Homo sapiens: one gene and its partners. The protein of the gene in region 3 interacts with the protein of the main gene of each other region in a pairwise test. Each region holds a gene or a part of one and is shown on either strand. Other genes may lie near its edges.

The links.
Region 1: the proteins of RALA (region 3) and RGL2 interact in a two-hybrid assay, tested with the Homo sapiens proteins (one study listed by BioGRID).
Region 2: the proteins of RALA (region 3) and USP33 interact in a two-hybrid assay, tested with the Homo sapiens proteins (one study listed by BioGRID).

What each region holds. Positions count from the first base shown.
Region 1 is NC_000006.12:33,291,072-33,295,976, forward strand, and holds the end of RGL2 (ral guanine nucleotide dissociation stimulator-like 2), read right to left. Parts: intron 4,689-4,905; coding exon 4,437-4,688; intron 4,352-4,436; coding exon 4,248-4,351; intron 4,141-4,247; coding exon 4,056-4,140; intron 3,975-4,055; coding exon 3,906-3,974; intron 3,692-3,905; coding exon 3,617-3,691; intron 2,996-3,616; coding exon 2,963-2,995; intron 2,865-2,962; coding exon of another isoform or gene 2,846-2,864; coding exon 2,724-2,845; intron 2,629-2,723; coding exon 2,533-2,628; intron 2,454-2,532; coding exon 2,342-2,453; intron 2,257-2,341; coding exon of another isoform or gene 2,236-2,256; coding exon 1,945-2,235; intron 1,474-1,944; coding exon 1,359-1,473; intron 1,243-1,358; coding exon 1,031-1,242; 3' UTR 583-1,030; downstream 1-582. UniProt on the Homo sapiens protein: Probable guanine nucleotide exchange factor. Putative effector of Ras and/or Rap. Associates with the GTP-bound form of Rap 1A and H-Ras in vitro.
Region 2 is NC_000001.11:77,756,853-77,764,527, forward strand, and holds the start of USP33 (ubiquitin carboxyl-terminal hydrolase 33), read right to left. Parts: upstream 3,001-7,675; 5' UTR 2,791-3,000; intron 1-2,790. UniProt on the Homo sapiens protein: Deubiquitinating enzyme involved in various processes such as centrosome duplication, cellular migration and beta-2 adrenergic receptor/ADRB2 recycling.
Region 3 is NC_000007.14:39,689,456-39,696,571, reverse strand, and holds part of RALA (ras-related protein Ral-A precursor), read right to left. Parts: intron 6,191-7,116; coding exon 5,982-6,190; intron 1-5,981. UniProt on the Homo sapiens protein: Multifunctional GTPase involved in a variety of cellular processes including gene expression, cell migration, cell proliferation, oncogenic transformation and membrane trafficking.

The DNA of each region.
Region 1 (4,905 bases), on a different chromosome or scaffold from region 3:
AAATCCTAAATGTCTTCAAACCTACTTCTTGCCTGTATATACAACCCTTAACTCTCCCTCATCTTGGTTGGCATGATTCTTTTGGAAGGGCATTTGCAACATACCATATTGCTAGGAATGTCGGTTTAATTGAAAAAGAATACACAGTTCTCTAACCTGAGGCCCCAGGATGAAATGTGGTTACCCTCCTTGCCAACAGCCCTGGCATCTCTATTAGTACTTTTCAGCCTCTGTCTTCCTAGAATTTGCTTGAATGTAGCTTTAAACTGACTTAAAATCCCAGCATGTAATGCTTTATGGTATTATAAGTCCTCCCAAGTTTATATGTTGTCCATAAAGTTGTTCTGCCATTTCCTTGTCCTAAAATTGTTTTATACACATTTGCAGCAAGGGACCAGTGGTAGAGAGGTTACTGGAGAGAAACTGTTCTGAGGAAACTTTTTTCACCAATACCTCACTTTTTGCTCTGTTCATGGGGACAGAAAACATTGTGCCCCTTCCTGTTCCATGGCATCTACCTTCAGCCAATTCCCCACCCCCACTCATAGCAGCCAGTTCATATGTACTGCAAGGACAGGGGAGTAGAATTCAGGTAGTGTTTTGGTTTATTATCTTAGTGTTGTCACAGTGATAGAAACCCCCAGAGTGGGAAGAAGAGCTCCTGCGAGGACCTACATTTTGCCATTCCCCTCTGCCCTGGGGCTCAGAGCCTTGAAGCCTTTGCTTGGCCCTTGCATGTTAGGATATGGCCAAGAATCAGAAACTGATGCGTTTTTCCAGCACTACCTGTGTGCTGCACTCATGGAAGGTGGGAAGCTATACACAGGTATCCAACTTGGTTATAAGACACCAGTTCCCACAGGGCTGGATTTCTCAGCTGTCTGGTAAACCAGTGGCACTTCACTGCCCCAGGGTGGCTGGCTCCCTTTCTGAATTTCTGTCTCAATGTGATATAATTGCCACCATTCAGGATGGCTACCCACATCTGGTATGAACACCATGACTTCTGTAAGCCAACGGGGCTTCCTCCTCAGAACAGTGCCCGTGCAATCTTCCTCCCTGTGGCCTTGATCCTGGGAAAGGAGCCCCCTCCTCCCTCACTCGGAGGAGTTCCTGAGGCAGACGGGCCACTGGTGACGCCAGGTGTAGCAGTAGAGGACCTTCGCCGCTGCCGCAGGAGGAAATCGTGTGAAGCTCCATCCATGGCGTAGAATACATTAGCCGAGGCTGGGATAGTCAGCTCTGAAGGTTCAGGGGATGGATGTAAAGCACACACACAGTTGTTCCCCCCACAGCCGCCCAGATGTGGAAGTACTCCACTCTCCTCCCGAGTCTGCCTTTCCCTCATGGCCTCTGACCTCGCTCCCCTGGTAGCAGCTGTACCAGCTCATACTCTGAAGCCACTGCAGAGTCACGATTGTTTTTCTTAAGGACACGACTGATGACACTTGGAGCCTTGTCCTGGCTTGTCACCTGGCAGAACAGGAGACCAAAAGAGCAATCAATCAGCCATGATTTCCCATCCTTCTACCCTCAGCCACTGAACCCAACCACAAAATGTTACTTGTGTCCAAGGCTTTAAAATGAACAGGAAAACCCAATATGGTGGCTTCCTATACCCCATAAGCCAGCCCACATGGTGCCCAGTGAAACAGAGCTGCTTCCCTGTGGGGAAACTGCTGTTGATTCTGAAATTTTAACACGGCGACCAAAAGTTTAAGGTGTAGCAACTAATGCAAAATAGCCATCAAAATAAAACAAATTTCAGCTTCTATTGAAGACTAGAGTTTAGAAGATAAAATTAAAAATAAAACATAACTGCCAAAACCAAAGGTCAAAATTAAAACTACATTCAATTCCATTTGGCTGCCCAAACCTCAGACAACATTTATAGTCCAACAAGACACCATCCTTCACCCCAACTCCATCCCAAGGCTCCCTCACCAAAATGCTCTTATAGACACTGCCATCTTCCCCCAACTCCATCTGGACTCGGATGATACGGCAATCAGAGGCCCCTGGCCCAGATCCCTCTCCCCCATATCCAGTCCCCCCGGAGGCCTCTTCTGCACCCCCACTCAGCGGGGAGCCACAGGAGGCTGAGCGGCGGTGACCTCGAGAAGGCCTAGGGGAGGAGGCTGGTGGGGAGAGGTGGCTGGGGTCAGCTGGACTGTGCAGGGATGGACTGCTTTCCAAGGCAGAGTCTAGTGACGAGACAGATGGCCACTTCATGTGCTAGGAACAAACAACATGGGACTGGCATGAAGGCAGGGAGGTTTAAGGAAGAAACATTTACAGAGTGAGGGTCAGCGTCAAGGTCAGAGTCAGGAGCAGAGCTCACCTGGGCCAGCCGAGTCAGCAGAGGAGCAGGAGTTGTAGGCGCCTCATCTCCCCCAGTACTGGGCCGGTCACAGGACACAAGCGGGGTAGGGACCCCAACAGAGCCCAAAACCCTGCAGTGGCAGGAGATTGGGAGGATCAGAGAAAAGTGGAAGTCCCAAGAAACCACCCCCCAGCCAGTGAATCTCTCACTCTGTCCACTGCGAGATGACCAATGTTGGCCGAAGCACCCGTGGGGCAGGAGGGTCACTGGAACCAGGTGGCTCCACCTCACAGGATACACGATGGCTGGGTTAGGGGGGCAATAGGCAGAGCTCAGGACATGACACCAATCCCCCACACCTGGCCAGAACCCTGGAGTCCCAACCTCACCCGCCAGTCACCTCTGAGCCTCTGTCAGTGGCCGGAGCCCCTGTAGCCACCTCTGGATATCATGGTCAGGTTGGAGGTTATAGCCACGACATTCATTCTGGAGCCGTCGCAACTCAGAAAGGACTGCAAACTCCTGGGAAGGAGCCCTCAAACTGCAGGAGCCAAAACTCAGGGACCCCTGACTTTTCCCCCTCCCCTTCCTGGAACATGGATAGGGAAGTCCAGCATCCAGCCCAGACACTCCGCTCACCTTCCTCCGCTTGTCAAAATTGATGTATCCATTCTGCGAGGAAAATGGGGATGGGGTGAAAGTTCCAACCCTACCTTCCGGCCACAGAGAGAGAATATCCCCTCTCTTAAACACACACAGCCACATCCAACTCACAACCACTTCCCTCCAGCCTCTCTGACTCTTCGATCCCTCCCTGCCTTCCTCCTCAATCTATCATGGCCTAAGCACTCCACTTGACCCTTTAAATTGAATTTCTCAGGTAGACAACGAGTCTGCTTTGCAGATGAGAGGACTGGATAGTATCCAATTCGACAGGATTCCTTATCCAGAGAGGATAAGGAACTTGTCCAAGGTCTCAGTATTTGTTTATTTAACAAACTCTAGCAATAGAGCAGGAGCCCATCACAAAACCTAGATGTGCTTACGTTTCAGGCACGTTCTAAGCACTTGACAAATACAAATTCATTTAACCCTTATAACAGATCAATGTAGATGCTATTTCTAGTTTCCCATTTACAGATCACTGAGGCGACTTGGCACAGAAACAGATCTGGCTCTGTCCCACACTCAGCTATTTGTGCCTTACAGCCCCTTGCAAGGGGCGGGGGGGTCTGTCCGACCCTGCAGCCCACTTGTTACATCATTGCAATGACACACACACACACCACTGACCTCCAACTCATCCTTGGAGGCTGCATCCAGCATCACAAGGTCCTTCAGGAAGGTGCCAAGGTATGGGACCACACCCTGAAGTCAGGGGTCAGGGTCAGAAGTGCCTGCCATTGACGTGAGGGCCCTCCATCCCTCCGCACTTGCCCTCCTCATTGCCTCAGAGAACAGATTTCATTCTCCTCACCCCTCTGTGCCTCCCTTACCCATCCTTCAGGCTGCTCCCCCAAAACATACTCCTCACCCCTTCATAATCACCACCCCCACGCCCACCACCCCGCTAGTCACTCACCCCACCCCGGGAGCCAGACCTCGGGGCCTTCTTGGAGTGTGGCTCCAGAGGAGACTGCAGCTTCACCTCCTGGTGGTGACAAAATAAAAGAGACATGGGGGAGCAGTAGGGAACAAGGAGAGGTGGGAATGCCACAAACCAGGCTCTCACCTGCACGAGCAGCTCCCGACTCTGGGAATAATTATCCTCCTCGGAGAAAATCTGGCAGAGGCTGGAAAAGACTCTGAGGCTGTCCCTGGGGAAGGGAGAAAAGTGGCCCTGAGGACAGGCCTGGCTCTGTCACCCCCTCTTCCCCGCCTTCTGAGGAACCCCCACCCCAGTCCAATGCCTCAGCCTCCGCACCTGGTTGCTTCCCCCCAGGCTGCCCGAAGCCTGTGGATGGGGCTGGACTGCAGGGCTGACACCACGGCATAAACTGAAGAGAAGTTTCGGAGCAGCCGGCACTCCTGTGGGGGTCAAAGAAGAGAGCTAAGGCTATGGGAGGCCTCTCCATTCCATGGCCACAAACCGTAGGGCAATCTTCTCTCTCACCTCTGCCACGCGGATCCACTTCTCCAGGAGCCGGGCCCTCTGTGGGGGACGGAGTGGCCGTATGGTCACCTCCCCAGGTCCCTCTCCAGTGGAAGTAGCCCCCAGGACAGAACTAACCACTGCCCCTGCCACCTTGTTAAACTGTGTGACAGTAGCTCGGACAGATGGGCAGAGGTGAGAATGTCCTGGCCGGTCTCTGTGACCCCACAGGCCTCCCAGGCACTGAGAGGGGATCAAATTGAGAAAAAGTTCCTGCAGGGTAGAGGTCAGAGGTTAAAGTTCATAGTCAAGTGAGGTCAGCCTTCCAATATCAGGGATCTGAGGATCTCAGGTGGCCAAGGAACCAGAGGGGCACAGGGTTTGAAGGGTAACGACCAAAGGGAAAAGGGGAGAATCAAAATGGTAGGTGGAGGAGGCTAGGAGCTGGATCAGGAAGGGGTGGAAGCAAGGAAAGGATCTGGAGTCAAGG
Region 2 (7,675 bases), on a different chromosome or scaffold from region 3:
AATCTAGCTTAACATAAAGCCACCCCAGCAGTCTTCCAGTCTCAATCTTCTAACAGTTACAGCTCATTTTCCTTTCATGTGGATCACATACCTCTTCTGATCAAACACCTTCAGTGAAGTCTTTCATAATTTGTCTTCTTTATCTATTATTAACTTACATAAACTATGAATATCAGCCACATTGTTCTACCGATGTTTTCTCAAATGTAAGTTGTACCCTTCAAGGAGCTCATTAATCTGTTCACATTACAAATATCCTCCAATATTTACCTTTCAAAGCTCACTCATCTCAAATACTACCTTCACCAAGCCCCAATCACAAGTAATGTCTACCTCACCTAAATTCCTAAGGAACTTTTATAAAAACTCATAAGGCATTTACTGTTGTGTAAAAAATTGCCTCACTTGACTACAAGTTCTTTGAAGGCAGAAACCACGTTTCATTCTTTTTGTTTTCCAAAGGGCCTTGTCCTGGTAGACTCAAAATATTGACCTAACTTAACCTTCTGAACATTTGACAGCATGATTTATTTTGATATACATATTGTTTCTTAAAGACTAGTTCTCAGTATACAATATAGCACATAATTCATGTGCCTTTTTATAGATAGTTAAAAGCAACTGTACTCATCTCACACTCTTTGGAGTTTTCCCACTTATCAAAATGTTCCTGCAGACACATGTACACTTTTAAAGTTTAAAAACTACACTAAATAGAGCTGTTACTTATTCCCTTCCTTTTTAGAAATGGTTACATTTCACATTTCTCACCAAAAATCTTTCAGCATTTTATGTACTTCATTTTCTTGTGAAGAGTCCACAGTCTTGTCATATGTTATAGTTCACAGTGCTCCAATCTTAATCTATCTGAATTCCCAATCTGTATCAAAAGCTGCTTTGGCAACATTATTTCAGGCTTTACGAAATTCTGATCCTTACACAATCTTGAAATGTTTCTGTCATGGGGAAAGACTTTATTTCTTGGCATTCGGAGCTCAGAGGACTGGCATGAGGATCAAGTAAGACTGTGTAAGTGAAAGGTCACAGAAAATTCTAATACTACTACATAAATGTAAGAATTATCATCTCAATTCTGAATTTCAAATATTTAAAATCACCTATTTACTACAATCTAATGTCATTAAACTGCAGTTATATAAAAAGACTTGCTTACTGTTAAGTTATAAAAAGTTCAGAAAAGACAGAAAAAAAGTGAAACTGGCCATAAACCAGATCATAAATAGGAAGCAATCTTAAGTAGACTATCCCTCTTGCACATATCAGGTCAAATATTTTATTCCAATAATATTTTTTGTACTGTCCTTTTTTTTTTTTTTTTTTTTTTTGAGACAGAGTCTCGCTCTGCTGCCCAGGCTGGAGTGCAGTGGCATGATCTCGGCTCATTGCAAGCTCTGCCTCCCGGATTCACGCCATTCTCCTGCCTCAGCCTCCCAAGTAGCTGGGACTACAGGCACCTGCCACCATGCCCGGCTAATTTTTTGTAATTTTTAGTACAGACGGGGTTTCACCGTATTACCCAGGATGGTCTCGATCTCCTGACCTCGTGATCGTCGGCCTCCCAGAGTGCTGGGATTACAGGCGTGAGCCACCGTGCCCAGCCCTGACCTTTCTTTCAATCCTGCCAAAGTAATGAAATAATACAAAGCTCCTAGCATTGTGTAACTATTTCTATTATTTTTTCATAAAACTAGCATTGTCTTTAAGATTCCTATTTTCTCTCTTATTTATAATAGTATGAATTCACTAACAATATTTGTATTATGCTCAAATCAAATAGCCTATGACGATAATGTGACTTGGTCAGACCTTTCCAAATAAGACAGTAGGAAAAACGGAACTAGGACGGCCTTGTTACTTTTTGTAACACGTTTTTCTTAAAGGAAAAATAATCTGATTAAACTTAAAAATTCTCTACATCCACATAGTTATTAAGCAAAAGGCCTAGAGATCGTTACGGTAAAATTCACCTTCAATTTAAGTCTATGCTCCTGCCAGAATTTCACCCTCTGGCTCAATTTTCCAGGCCTAATACTGATTCTATGAGAATGTAAACTCCAACGGTACTTGAGTGCAAAACACCCAGGAAAATCTCATCGTCCAAGAGCTCAACGTAAAACCCTGTAAATATTCAAATGAAGAGCGTTTTGTATACGAGAAATATAAGTAAAGGTCTGGGAAACCACACACTATGGATCTTTCATCCAAACAAAGGCTGCAGATGGACAGAAGGTAAGGGGTAACCTCTCAGTCAAGATCAAACATTGGTCGAAGAAAAATTCCAGGGACGATGACACCTCGGTTTTTCCGTTCACAACAACAAACAACGGGGCCGGCCCCCTCAACAGCGCCGAAAAGCGAAACCAGAACCCAGGAGCCGGCGCGCTGCAGGGCTTTCAGTCACCCACTGAGAGGGACTGGCAAGCCTGAGTGGGGAGACCGAGGAAGGGAGCAGAGCCCCCGCTTCTCGGGCTCACCTGCACCTCCCGCTTCCAGGGAAGAACCCCTGAGGACCCTTCCTCAAATCAACGACCGGTTCCCATCCTCCACCGACCGTTGACAGGGCGACCACTAGATTATCTCTGCAACGCAGAGCACCGAGGGGCCAAGGCCTTCTTCCCGCCCGCGAACCCGCCGCCACCCAGGACCAAGAAAAAGAGGCTGCTGCAGCGGCCGCAACCCCAGCGCGCGGAAGCGAGAACAGAGACCGGACCCCGGACGCGAGCGAAACGCCCTTGGGCCCCGCGCCCCTCCCAGCAGCGCCGCGCTCACCTCCACGGCCTGGCCCGCGGGACCCGCCAGCTCGACCAACAACGGCCTGCAGCCGCACCTCCGCAAGCTCCTCTTTTCCTTCTCAGCTCTCGGAGAGGGGCAGTGTCGCGTCAGGAGGGCCGGAAAACGGCCCCGCAGCGCTGCCCTCGGGGGGTCCGCCTCCTGAACTGGCCACTTCCCGCAGCAGCCGCGGCTCCTTCCGGTGTCTCCGGGGCCGCCGCAGGCGTCTCCGGCGATAGGGGAGGTGGGGGCGGAGCCTCGATGGGAGCCCGCCCCAGGGGCGGGGCCACGGGAGCCAGGCCCAGGTGCGGGGACCCAGGCCGGCTCCCTACTCTGACTGCAAACTAACTGTACAGGGTATGTGCAGCAGTTTGAGGCTGTGAGCTTTTTTTTTTTCGTTTTTCACATGTTTTCTCCTTCTCTTTCACAGTCACACACTACGACCATTATAAGGTCTTGTCTCGATGCATTACAAAAACTGCATTAAGGCTGGCCACTGAAGGGCCTCAGGTTTCCAAACTTGAGCAAAGAAATATTAGACTTAACTTATCCCAATTCAACATTGTATTTCCTCCTTTCATCTTTCTTCCCCCAACTTCTTAGGACCTAGATTCTCTGAAAGCAATTATGTTTCCCTTTTCCACCTATGCAAAGAAGAAATTTATCTCACCATTTTCTCCTTAGGCTAAAATCAAGAGGATCAAATCAAATATTTATTGAAACCTTAGTATCTGCTTAATGCCTGGAGCATGGAAGGAGTCCTGCCTTCTAATTATGTAACTGTTAAAATGCACTCGATTGAGGTTCAAATCTATGAATAAAAAAGGTTATATTAATAAAAAATTGTTAAAATTGCCAGTTTCAATCTGTCTCATGACATCTGACTTTTTGGTCTCCAAAATGGGAGCATGTACCAAAGTATCATGCAAGATGCTCAGTCTCCATTGGAATAGGTAGAAAATATAAAAGCTTCTACTTATTTTTATGGTAAAAATGAAATAAATTAACCATGATACAAAATTCTAGGTAGGGATTGACACTCAGGCCTCAATTTGCACCACAAATGATTGCCTATCCTCGGTTCACTGAGGAGAATAGAAATTTCACAGAATAGAAGTTTCACAGGCAGGCGCCATGGTTCATGCCTGTAATCCCAGCACTTTGGGAGGCCGAGGCGGGTGAATCACTTGAGTTCGAGACTAGCCTGGGCAACATGGCGAAACCCCATTTCTACTAAAAATACAAAAATTCGCCAGGCATGGTGACAGGCACCTGTAGTCCCAGCTACTCAAGAGGCTAAGAGTGGAGGATCACTTGAGACCAGGAGTTTGAGGTTGCAGTGAGCCATGATTGTGCCACTGCACTTCAGCCTGGGTGACAAAGTGAGATATTCTCTGGGAAAAAAAAAAAAAGATGCCGTTAGGAGATGAAAAGTTGTCTCCAGCCGGGCACAGAGCCTCACACCTGTAATCCCAGCATTTTGGGAGGCCAAGGCGGGTGGATTACCTGAGGTCAGGAGTTCAAGACCAGCCTGACCAACATGGTGAAACCCCCATCTCTACGAAAAATACAAAAATTAGCCAGGTGTGGTGGCGCGTGCCTGTAATCCCAGCCACTCAGGAGGCTGAGGCAGGAGAATTACTTGAACCCAGGAGGCAGAGGTTGCAGTGAGCCAAGATAGAGCCACTGAACTCCAGCCTGGGCAACAGAGGAGGACCCTGTCTCAAAAAAAAAAAAAAAAAAAAAAAAAGCTGTCCACAGAGGAGATCTACAGAAGAAAAAAAAAGAAGAGAGACAGAGAGAGAAGAAAAGTTAGGCCAGCAAATAGAATTTATTTGAAATACATATAATTGAAAAGGGGCTCAACTCCATATGTATTTCCAGAAATCAATTTTTAAAAAAACAGGCGACCAAATAGAAAAATAGACAAAAGTCACTTCCCCAGAAATTCTTCTATTGAAAATGTATCAGGGGTATTCTGTTCTTACAGTGTCCTAGCAAATTCAATTCAGCCTCCAAGTCCCACCACCATCCTGCTTAGTAACCAAGGTTCTCTCTGGGCTTACCTGTCCTGGAGGAGTTCTAGGGCAGTGTCAATGCAAGGAAGACAACTGACAAGGCTGTTCAAGATCACCAGGTGCGGTGGCTCATGCCTGTAATCCCAGCACTTTGGGAGGCCCAGCAGGGCAGATCACCTGAGATCGGGAGTTTGAGACTAGTGCGTAGATAATAGTAGGCAAGTACTTCTCAGGTGGACACCAAGTGAAGTCCTTGCAGTGGACAAGTTCTCACAAAACAAACTCACTCTGATAGAATATAATGTAATACCTCTCCCACTTTTAACTTCCGTGAATTCCTGCCTCCCACCCTTGGGTGTTTATCCTTTCATCCCACAGTCCAGATTGCTTATCTTTTACTTTTCTTCAAACAATATCTCCTGATGGCTTATAATGGCTTATAAGGAAGAACACTATCATTAGGAAATAAATCAATCAACTTCCCCTTGAGAGAATAGATTATACATTCCAAAGTGTGGACACCCAGCTGAGTCACTGATTCTGGAGTAGAATTCTAGAGGGTGTGTGGACACCCAGCTGAGTCATACTGATTCTGGAACAGAATTCTAGAGGTGCCGTTCATGGAGAATATAATGTAAATAGTATGACTTAGAGTTGTGCATCAGGCCAGGTACTGAAGTCTCTTCTAATGAAAGGGAGAAAAAAGAAGAAATGAAGAGTAGGAAGAAAAAGAAGAAAAGAAGTCTCTTCTAATGAAAGGGAGAAAAAAGAAGAAATGAAGAGTAGGAAGAAAAAGAAGAAAAGAAGGAGAGATACAAACAGGGAGGGAGGAAGACAATTGAATGGTCCTATCAAAAACAAATACCTTCTCATTTTTGTAACTGAGTAATGGCAAGTAAAAAATAGCAACGTAGAAAATATACATTTTGGTGCTTATGTACCTGAGACTAAATAAAGCTTTGTAAATGCTGTTTCCTTAGAGACAATTTTACAGATACTCCCAACCTCTATCCTTCCTTCACCTGGCTAACTCCTACCTAGATATTCTCTGTTTAATACAGAACTCTTTACCCCATTATTTCCGGTTTCAGCATCCTGCTTGCTTCCTTTAGAGAATGTATTATAATTTGTAATTATCTTAAATTTTTTGGTATACTTAATTTTTTGCCTGTCTCTCCTGAACTCCTCAATGGGAGCAGTGAGTATTTATCTTATTCACAATATTCCCAGAGCCTAGCATTGAAGGACTCAAAAACTTGTTGGCACTCAACTGGGGGTGGTTTTGTCCCCTGAGTGGATAGTTGGCAATATTTCTGAAGAGGATTGGTGGGAGAAAGAATTAGTAACATTCCTTTGCATTGATATTACAAGAGAGTCCCAGACATCATTAATGCCACTATTGAGAAACTCTGATTTAAGCTGGGGCTTTAAAATATGTCTTTGGGCCGGGCCCAGTGGCTCACGTCTGTAATCCCAGCACTTTGGAAGGCCGAGTTGGGCGGATCACCTGAGATCAGGAGTTCGAGACCAGCCTGGCCAACATGATGAAACTCCATCTCTATCAAAAATACAAAAATTAGCTGGGTGTGGTGCAGGTACCTATAATCCCAGCTACTCGGGAGGCTGAGGCAGGAGAATCGCTTGAACCCGGGCGGCGGAGGTTGCAGTGAGCTGAGATGGCACCACTGCATTCCAGCCTGGGCAACAAGAGCAAAACTCTGTCTCAAAGTAAAATAAAATATGTTTCTGGGCAGGGCGCAGTAGCTCATGCCTGTAATCCCAACACTTTGGAAAGCTGCGGCTGCTTGAGACCAGAGTTCAAGACCAGCCTGGGCAACATGGCGAAACCCTGTCTCTACAAAAAATTGCAACAATTAGCCGGGCATGGTGGATCATGCCTGTAGTCCCAGCTACTATGGAGGGTGAGGTGAGAGAATCACTTGAGCCCAGGAAATTAAGACTGTCATGAGCCATGACTGTGCCACCCCTCTCCAGCCTGGGCAATAGGAGTGAGACCCTGTCTCTCAAAAAACAAAAACAAGAACAAAAAAAAAAGAAAGAAAGAAAAGAAAAATATATTTTAAAACAAATCTTAGGCAAAGCATTTTTGCTTTTCCGCTCACTGTCACATAATTAAAAAGTCCACCAGGCCAGGTGTGTTGGCTCATGCCTATAATTCAACACTTTTCAAAGCCAAGGTGGGAGGATCAGTTGAGCCCAGGAGTTCGAGACCAGCCTGGTTAACAAAGTGAAATTCTGCCTCTACAAAAAATTTTAAAAAATAATACCAGGATACGATGGCACATGCCTGTAGTACAGCTACTCCAGAGGCTGAGGCAGGAGGATCCCTTGAGCCCAGGAGTTTGAGACTGCAGTGAGTGAGCTATAATCGTGCCACTGTACTCCAGCTTGGTGACAGAGCAAGAGCCTCTCTGTCAGAAAAAAAAAAAAAAAAAGTCCTCCAGTAATTTTCTAGTAATAAAAAAAAGTGGCCTTTTGCCCCTAGTATTAGAAAAAAATCCTGTCCAGTGCAATATCAAAAATTCTCTGCCATTTCCTCTACCTTGTTCTCCCTTCTCCCTGGCTTATTGGCTTTTTGTTTTGTGCCCCTCCACAGTTGAAGAAGACAAGAACAGAAAGGATCTTTCTGGACTGACACAGTTTTAGCAGTCAGTGACTTTTGGGAGTGGCTGAGGTCTGAAGCTGACTCTTTCTCTCATGGAGTCCATCACTGGAACCCTCACCTACAGTCTCTTGGCTCAGCAATGTATCTTCTGGATGGCCACCTATGACCTAGTCCTTAGTCCCCTGATTTCCAGGGATCCTCTCACCCAAACTGACAGTCCTTTTGGACAGACATTTTCAAG
Region 3 (7,116 bases):
AAATCACAATTAATGAACCAATATCGATACAGTATTAGCAACTAAGGTCCAAACTTTATTCAAATGTGCTTGCTTTTTGCCTGACATCCTTTTTCTGTTCCAGGATCCCATCCAGGTTGCCACATGACATTTAGTTTCGTCATGTCTCTTTAGCCTTGAGTTGGCCATGGTAATTCTCAGACTTTCCTTGTTTTTGATGACCTTAATAGTTTTGAGGACTGCTGGCTGGCAGTTTGTACAATGTCTCTCAATTGGGATTTGTCAGATGTTTTCCTCATGATTAAAGTAGGGTTATTGGTTCTTGGGAGGAAGATTTAGAAAGTGCTATTCTTATTGCATCATATCAAGGGTCCCACCAATTGTTTTTCAAAACCCAAATGTGCCAGAAATTACTGGAAGTCAGACCTTGAGCATAGATTTTGCATTGAGAGGTAAGTTATCCACTGTGAAAGTGTCATCAATTTTAAAGTACCATGGTTCTGCTCTTCCTAGTCATGTAAGTCTGAGCAAAGTGCAAAGTACTTCTTACCTCAGTTTCCTCATCTATAAAATGGAGCCAACAATTATACCTTCCTTATAAAGTTGCTATGAGGGTTAAATGTGAAGTGCTTATAACTGCATCGACAGAGTAAATATTCAAAAAATGTTAGCTCATTATTAATCTACTGGAAGAAATGTTTTTTTGTAAAATCAAAAAACAAAAGGAAATCTGTAAGACTTAGGTTCAATAATTTGCTACCTTAAAAATGCCTCTCCTTTGAAATTATTAAGAGCTGTTGAAGCTATAGGAACGTAAGTAAAGTCAGCCCTCTGTATCCACAGACTCAACTAACTGCAAATAAAAAATATCTTTTAAAACCCCAAAAACAGCCAGGTGCAGTGGCTCATACCTGTAAACCCAGCACTTTGGGAGGCTGAGGCAGGAGGATTGCTTGAGGCTAGGAGTTCAATACCAGCCCAGGCAACACAGTGAGACCCCCATATCTATAAAAAATAGAAAAAAAATTTGGCTGGGTGTAGTAGTGTGCACCTGTAGTCCTAGCTACTCAGGAAGATCGCTTGAGCCCAGGAGTTCAAGGCTGCAGTGAGCCATGATTACATCACTGTACTCTAGCCTGGATGACAGAGTAAGATCCTGTCTCAAAAAAAAAAACCAAAAACCAAAAAAATGCCACAATAAAAAGTAAAACAAAATTTAAAATGCAGAATAACAACTATTTACATAGCAATTACACTGTATTAGCTATTAAAAGTAATCTAGAGATGACTTAAGGTACATGGGAGGATGTGCATAGGCTATCTGCAAATACCACACCATTTTATAGAAGAGACTTGACTATCCATGAATGTCGGTATCCATAAGGAGTCCTGGAACCAATCCCTGCCCTGCCCTGATACTGAGGGACGACTATATTTTAGAATAAGAGAAAATGAGAAAATTAAAGGGATATTAGAATGGCAAATCAGCAAAGTACACTTGGTTTTGCAGACTTTTTTTTTTTTTCTTTTTTTTGAGACAGGGTCTTACTCTGTCACCCAGGCTGTAGTGCAGTGGCATGATCACGGCTCACTGCAGCCTCAACCTCCTGGGCTCAAGCAATTCTCTTACCTCAACTTCCCGAGTAGCACACCTATACTATAGGCACGCGCCACCACACCCAGCTAATTTTTTTTTCTTTTTTTCTTTTTTTTGTAGAGATGGGGTTTCACCATGTTGTCCAGACTGGTCTTGAACTCCTGAACTCAAGTGATCTGCCTGCTTCAGCCTCCCAAATTGCTGGGATTACTGCTGTGAGCCACTGTACCTGGCTGCAGGCATTTTATAGTGATGCTTGAAAAACTGGGAAAAATCTTCTTGCCTTATTTTCAGATTATTCTATTCTGTGCTTCTTAGACAATGTTTCCTAAATACCACCACCACACTACTACCACTAACATTGTACTCAGCGCTCACAATGTGCCAAACACTGCTTTCAGGACTTACATACATTTTCTCATTTAATCCTTACCTAAACCTATGAAGTTAGTATCATTATTATTCTTGTCCTACAGATGAGGAAACTGATGCACACAGAAATTATGTTAACTTGCTCAGAGACACACTTAAGTAGAACCAGGACTGAGAAATCCAACTCCAGAGCACACAATGAACTTGTACAGTAGATACCAAGAGAATACAAAGGCAGACCTCCTGCATTTTAACTCTATGCTATTCCTGACTGCACAACCTGGGGCAAGCCACTTAACCTCCCTGCATTTCTGTTTCTTCATTTATAAATTTGGATGTCACTTTTTTAAAAAAAGTCAAATTTAAGACATCACTAGTTCTCAATCTTATTTTATGGACTCTAAGAAAAACTGCTGGCAATTATAACTGTATGGTGCCATATCATAAGACATAGCCCTCAGAGATGTTAAAATGTACATCTTATAATCTATGAAATCCAGTAGTATCTATCTCACAGTGTTGTTTGAGAAACTAATTTATATATGTGAATGCTTAGAACAGTCTGGTCCTGGTAAGTGCTGCATGAGTATGAGGTAGTGTTACTATTATTATTACTTCATTCACTTGATTACTCACGATGTAGCAAACATTCTAACACATTCAACACTCATAGGAAGTTCTTTGGACCTGAACTCTCAGTTTTTCTAATGTGAATAGACTATAGGCCGCACAGACTATGGGCCACAGAGAAAGTAAACTCCATTCTTCACTGATTTGTATTTGTCTTAAACATCCTTTTAGAAGTCAAACAAGCACGGTATCTGGGTGATGCAGGCTAAGACGTACAGCACTACACAGTGCTATGATGCTTCCTACCACTCACATGATTTCTTGCAAAAACCATGTCAACTTTCACCATGATTACTATTAAATATATGCAGTACTTGTGAAGGGCATTTTGGCCAATCACAATCTTTTTCTAGGGCGTGCTGTGACTTTCTTAACCAGTTTCCTTTGTGAATGACGGCCTGAATGCTGTTCTTTTTTCTTTTTTTAATTATACTTTAAGTTGTAGGGTACATGTGCACAACGTGCAGGTTTGTTACCGAGGTATACATGTGCCATGTTGGTTTGCTGCACCCATCAACTCGTCATTTACATTAGGTATTTCTCCTAATGCTATCCCTCCCCCAGTCCCCCACCCCACGATAGGCCCCAGTGTGTGATGTTCCCTGCCCTGTGTCCAAGTGTTCTCATTGTTCAATTCCCACCTATGAGTGAAAATATGCAGTGTCTGGTTTTCTGTCCTTGTGACAGTTTGCTCAGAATGATGGTTTCCAGCTTCATCCATGTCCCTGCGAAGGACATGAACTCATCCTTTTTTATGGCTGCATAGTATTCCATGGTGTATATGTGCCATATTTTCTTAATTCAGTCTATCATTGATGGACATTTGAGTTGATTCCAAGTCTTTACTATTGTGAGTAGTGCCGCAGTAAACATACATGTGCATGTGTCTTCATAGCAGCATGATTTATAATCCTTTGGGTACATACCCAGTAATGGGATCGCTGGGTCAAATGGTATTTCTATTCTAGATCCTTGAGGAATCGCCACACTGTCTTCCACAATGGTTAAACTAATTTACACTCTCACCAACAGTGTAAAAGCATTCCTATTTCTCCACATCCTCTCCAGCATCTGTTGTTTCCTGACTTTCTAATGATCGCCACTGAATGAAGCTGTTAACAACAACTAACCTGCCACTCAGTCTCACCACTTGGAAGGTGAGACTGACTCAGGTGTTTGTAACTCTAGCACCTCTGGTCATATGTGTGTATATATAGTCATTAATTTATTTCTTAATAAATACCTACTAAGCTACTCTGAGTCAGGTGCTGCAGGGAAACCAATACTGAAAAAGCATAGTGTGATTGATGCTGGCAGAAACACGGCTGTAGAAAACCTGGACCTACTGGGTTCCGAGGTGAGAAGATGTTATTTTTTTAGAGTTAATAGATTGGTTTTACTAGCAACTTTGCTGGATGTCAGAGAAAAGTAATTCTACGGTATAAACTTCATATACATTTTGCTTAATATAATACTCCCTTTAAATACAGTTTTAGAGGCTATTACAGAATTTCAGAATAGGGAAGTACAATCTGGTCCAACTTCATTTTTGACATAGGAAAGTAAAAACCAAAAGGTAAAGGTTTTTGAATCAAGACAAATGTTTACTAAACATGTACTTACTATAGATTATATGCTATGAACTATGGCATATATAGGTACTGGGGATACTGAGACAGGAAAGGAATAGGTGTTAAGTGTGATACTGGAGCTGCAGCAAGGACATTGCATATATAGACGAGGAAGCAATGGATTTTGTGGATCACAGAGATGACCAGGAAGGCTAAAGGGAGGAGCTGATATTTATGCTACTGTTTTATTTATTTTTGCTACTCTTGCAGTTTAGACCACGTGGAGTGCCCACTGTAACCATTCAGACCTTTTCAAAAAAGCCTTTCACCAACAATATTGTTGGTGAGTCACTAGGGTCATTTTTATTTATGGCAGAGGCATTGGAGGTACGCCCTAAGAGTAATGAATCATCCTTATTTTCTATAATAGTAATAGCCCAAGATTCTTGCATGAAAATACCTTATTCTCTTGAAATATCACTTTGACTTTGGTGACTATGGTGATAACATTTATTCCATTACTTAGAACAAGACTTGCTACATTATAAGCACTCAAATATCTGCTGAATGAATAAGCATTGGCATTTATATAACTTTCAACATGTCTCCCACAATTACAAGCTACCAGAGTCTGCCATCCCTTGCATGTCATCATATATGAAATTTCTTCCTCATAGAAACCAACAAACTTTATGAATAAATCTATACTTCAGAGTTTCTCAATTACCTGCTTTTTGCAAAGAATGCTCTCTTAGAATAAGTTCTTGAGATTTTCAAGTGTGCATAAAAAGGAATGCTCTGTAAAAGCCTTGGTTTAGTTTTTTGCTCACCCACCTGAAATGCCCTCTTTCCTTATGTGTGAAAATCCTTCTTTTCTTCAAGCTCATCTATTTCATGAAGGTTTCCCAGCTTCTTTCCCCTCCCGGATCCTCTGCACTAACCACTGCCCATGTTCCTACTTTGTCACTAACTTGCTCTTGGTTAAATGCCTTATATATTCATCTAGGCTGTGTGAATCTTGAAAATAGAGGATACATTGCATGCTTCTTTTCTGTCCTCCATAATCAAGTAAGACACTTCACACAGAAATAAAAATATGTATCATTTAATTAAAGAACACTTGATTTATGCATGTAGTATTTGCAAGACCACGCAAGAACTCTATGCCAAATACCTCTTAAATATAGAGGAGCACCTCTTTCCCCTTCACCAAAACCACCTCCTCTAAAACCAAATGGATTCCAGATTTTAATTAAACAATAAATAATAAAAAATATTATATAACAATCTAATGTGCCCATCTACAGAGATATTATTTCTATTAAAAATTCATTCATTCTGAAGGTTCCCATGTAATAAGAAAAAGAAACAAAAAATTCAGTCTGTGCTATCAGGGCATCTATATTTTGAGGAGGATGGCAACGTGCCTACTGAGCATTACATAGGTGCTAAGAAACCATGACTAACAGAGAAAGATGTAAAACCTGAGTAAGCTCCATTATGTGCTCTAAGTATGAACTGTTATGGCAGTAGTAGTTTACACTAAAGAGAAATACTTCAGTAACTCATAGAGACTCTGGGTAACTGAAGCTGTCACAAAATCAAACTCCAATACAGGTGACACCGGGAGAGCTGTAAGACTATGCAAAGTATCCTAACTGTGTGTACATAACACAGTAGAGAGAGTCATATACTGATATCAAAAAGGGAATAAACACAATTAGAGACAGAGTAAAAGACTAACAAGTTAGAACCTCTAGTTGTCTACTTGTTTCTGGGGAAGAAATTGTTGTATAGTATGTCACAAGCAACAACATTACTCTAGGACATACCTGAAGTCAGCTGTAGCTGCAAAGGATTCCATTTCTGTAATAGAGAAAACACAGAGGAACCCCTCCCCACTTCGGAAGTAGTTGTCTCTAATTGCAGCGTAGTCCTCCTGCCCAGCTGTATCTAAGATATCGATCTGGACTTCCTCCCCATCTAGCACTACCTTCTTCCGATAGCTGTCTGCTTTGGTAGGCTCATAGTCCTCCACAAACTAGAAAAGATAAAAACACACCAATTTTTTAATTATTACGTTTCAAAACTTATTTTGAAATAATTATAAATTCATGTGAAGCTGCCAAAATAGTACAAGAAGAGTTCTGTATACCCTTTGCCCAGATTCCTCCAATGGTAAAAACTACACTAATTTTAATTTTAGACAATTTCTTGGTTTCCTCATTTGCAAACAGAGAGGGCTGAGTTATTACCTCTAGGCTGTTTACAGCTTGAAAACAGCTTTTCTTCCTTAAAACACAATACCTGCAAAAACTATTACACATATATTTTACCAAATTTATAATAGTCTTTTTTCTATGTAACTCTGAATATAAATTTTCATGCTAGAACTGTGGAAATAACTTAAAGGTCAATATTTTGGTAAGCACTGAAAGTATCATTAAATCCTTTCTTTTTCTAAAATGAACTAAGTCAATAAAGTGATTTACACTACTCAACAGAAAGTCAAATCTTAAACTTTATGAGACTTCTTCCCAAACTTTTGATTTTTTAAATAGTACAATTCAACAACTTTACATTCCCACTCCTATCGTCAGCCCCATAAATCTCACTTTAATATACCTTGATAAACCGTAGGCAGGCAGATGATAAGTATGTGTATATGTACGCAGACAAGGCCTTACTATGTTGCCCAGGCTGGTCTTGAACTCCTGGGCTCAAATAATCCTACTGCCTTGGTCTCCCAAAGTGTTGGGATCACAGGTGTGAGCCACCAGGCCCGGCCTATCTTTTGATATCATTGTTAGCATGTATTCATTTACACACAGACATTTGTGGGTTTTTTATTAGCTCTTGTAAATATTTTCATTATCTGATACATTCTTATTTATTTGCTATGACTGTATCTTGTCATTAGAATTTAACCCCTCAGAGCAGGGACCTTGCATATGCTATTCATCATTA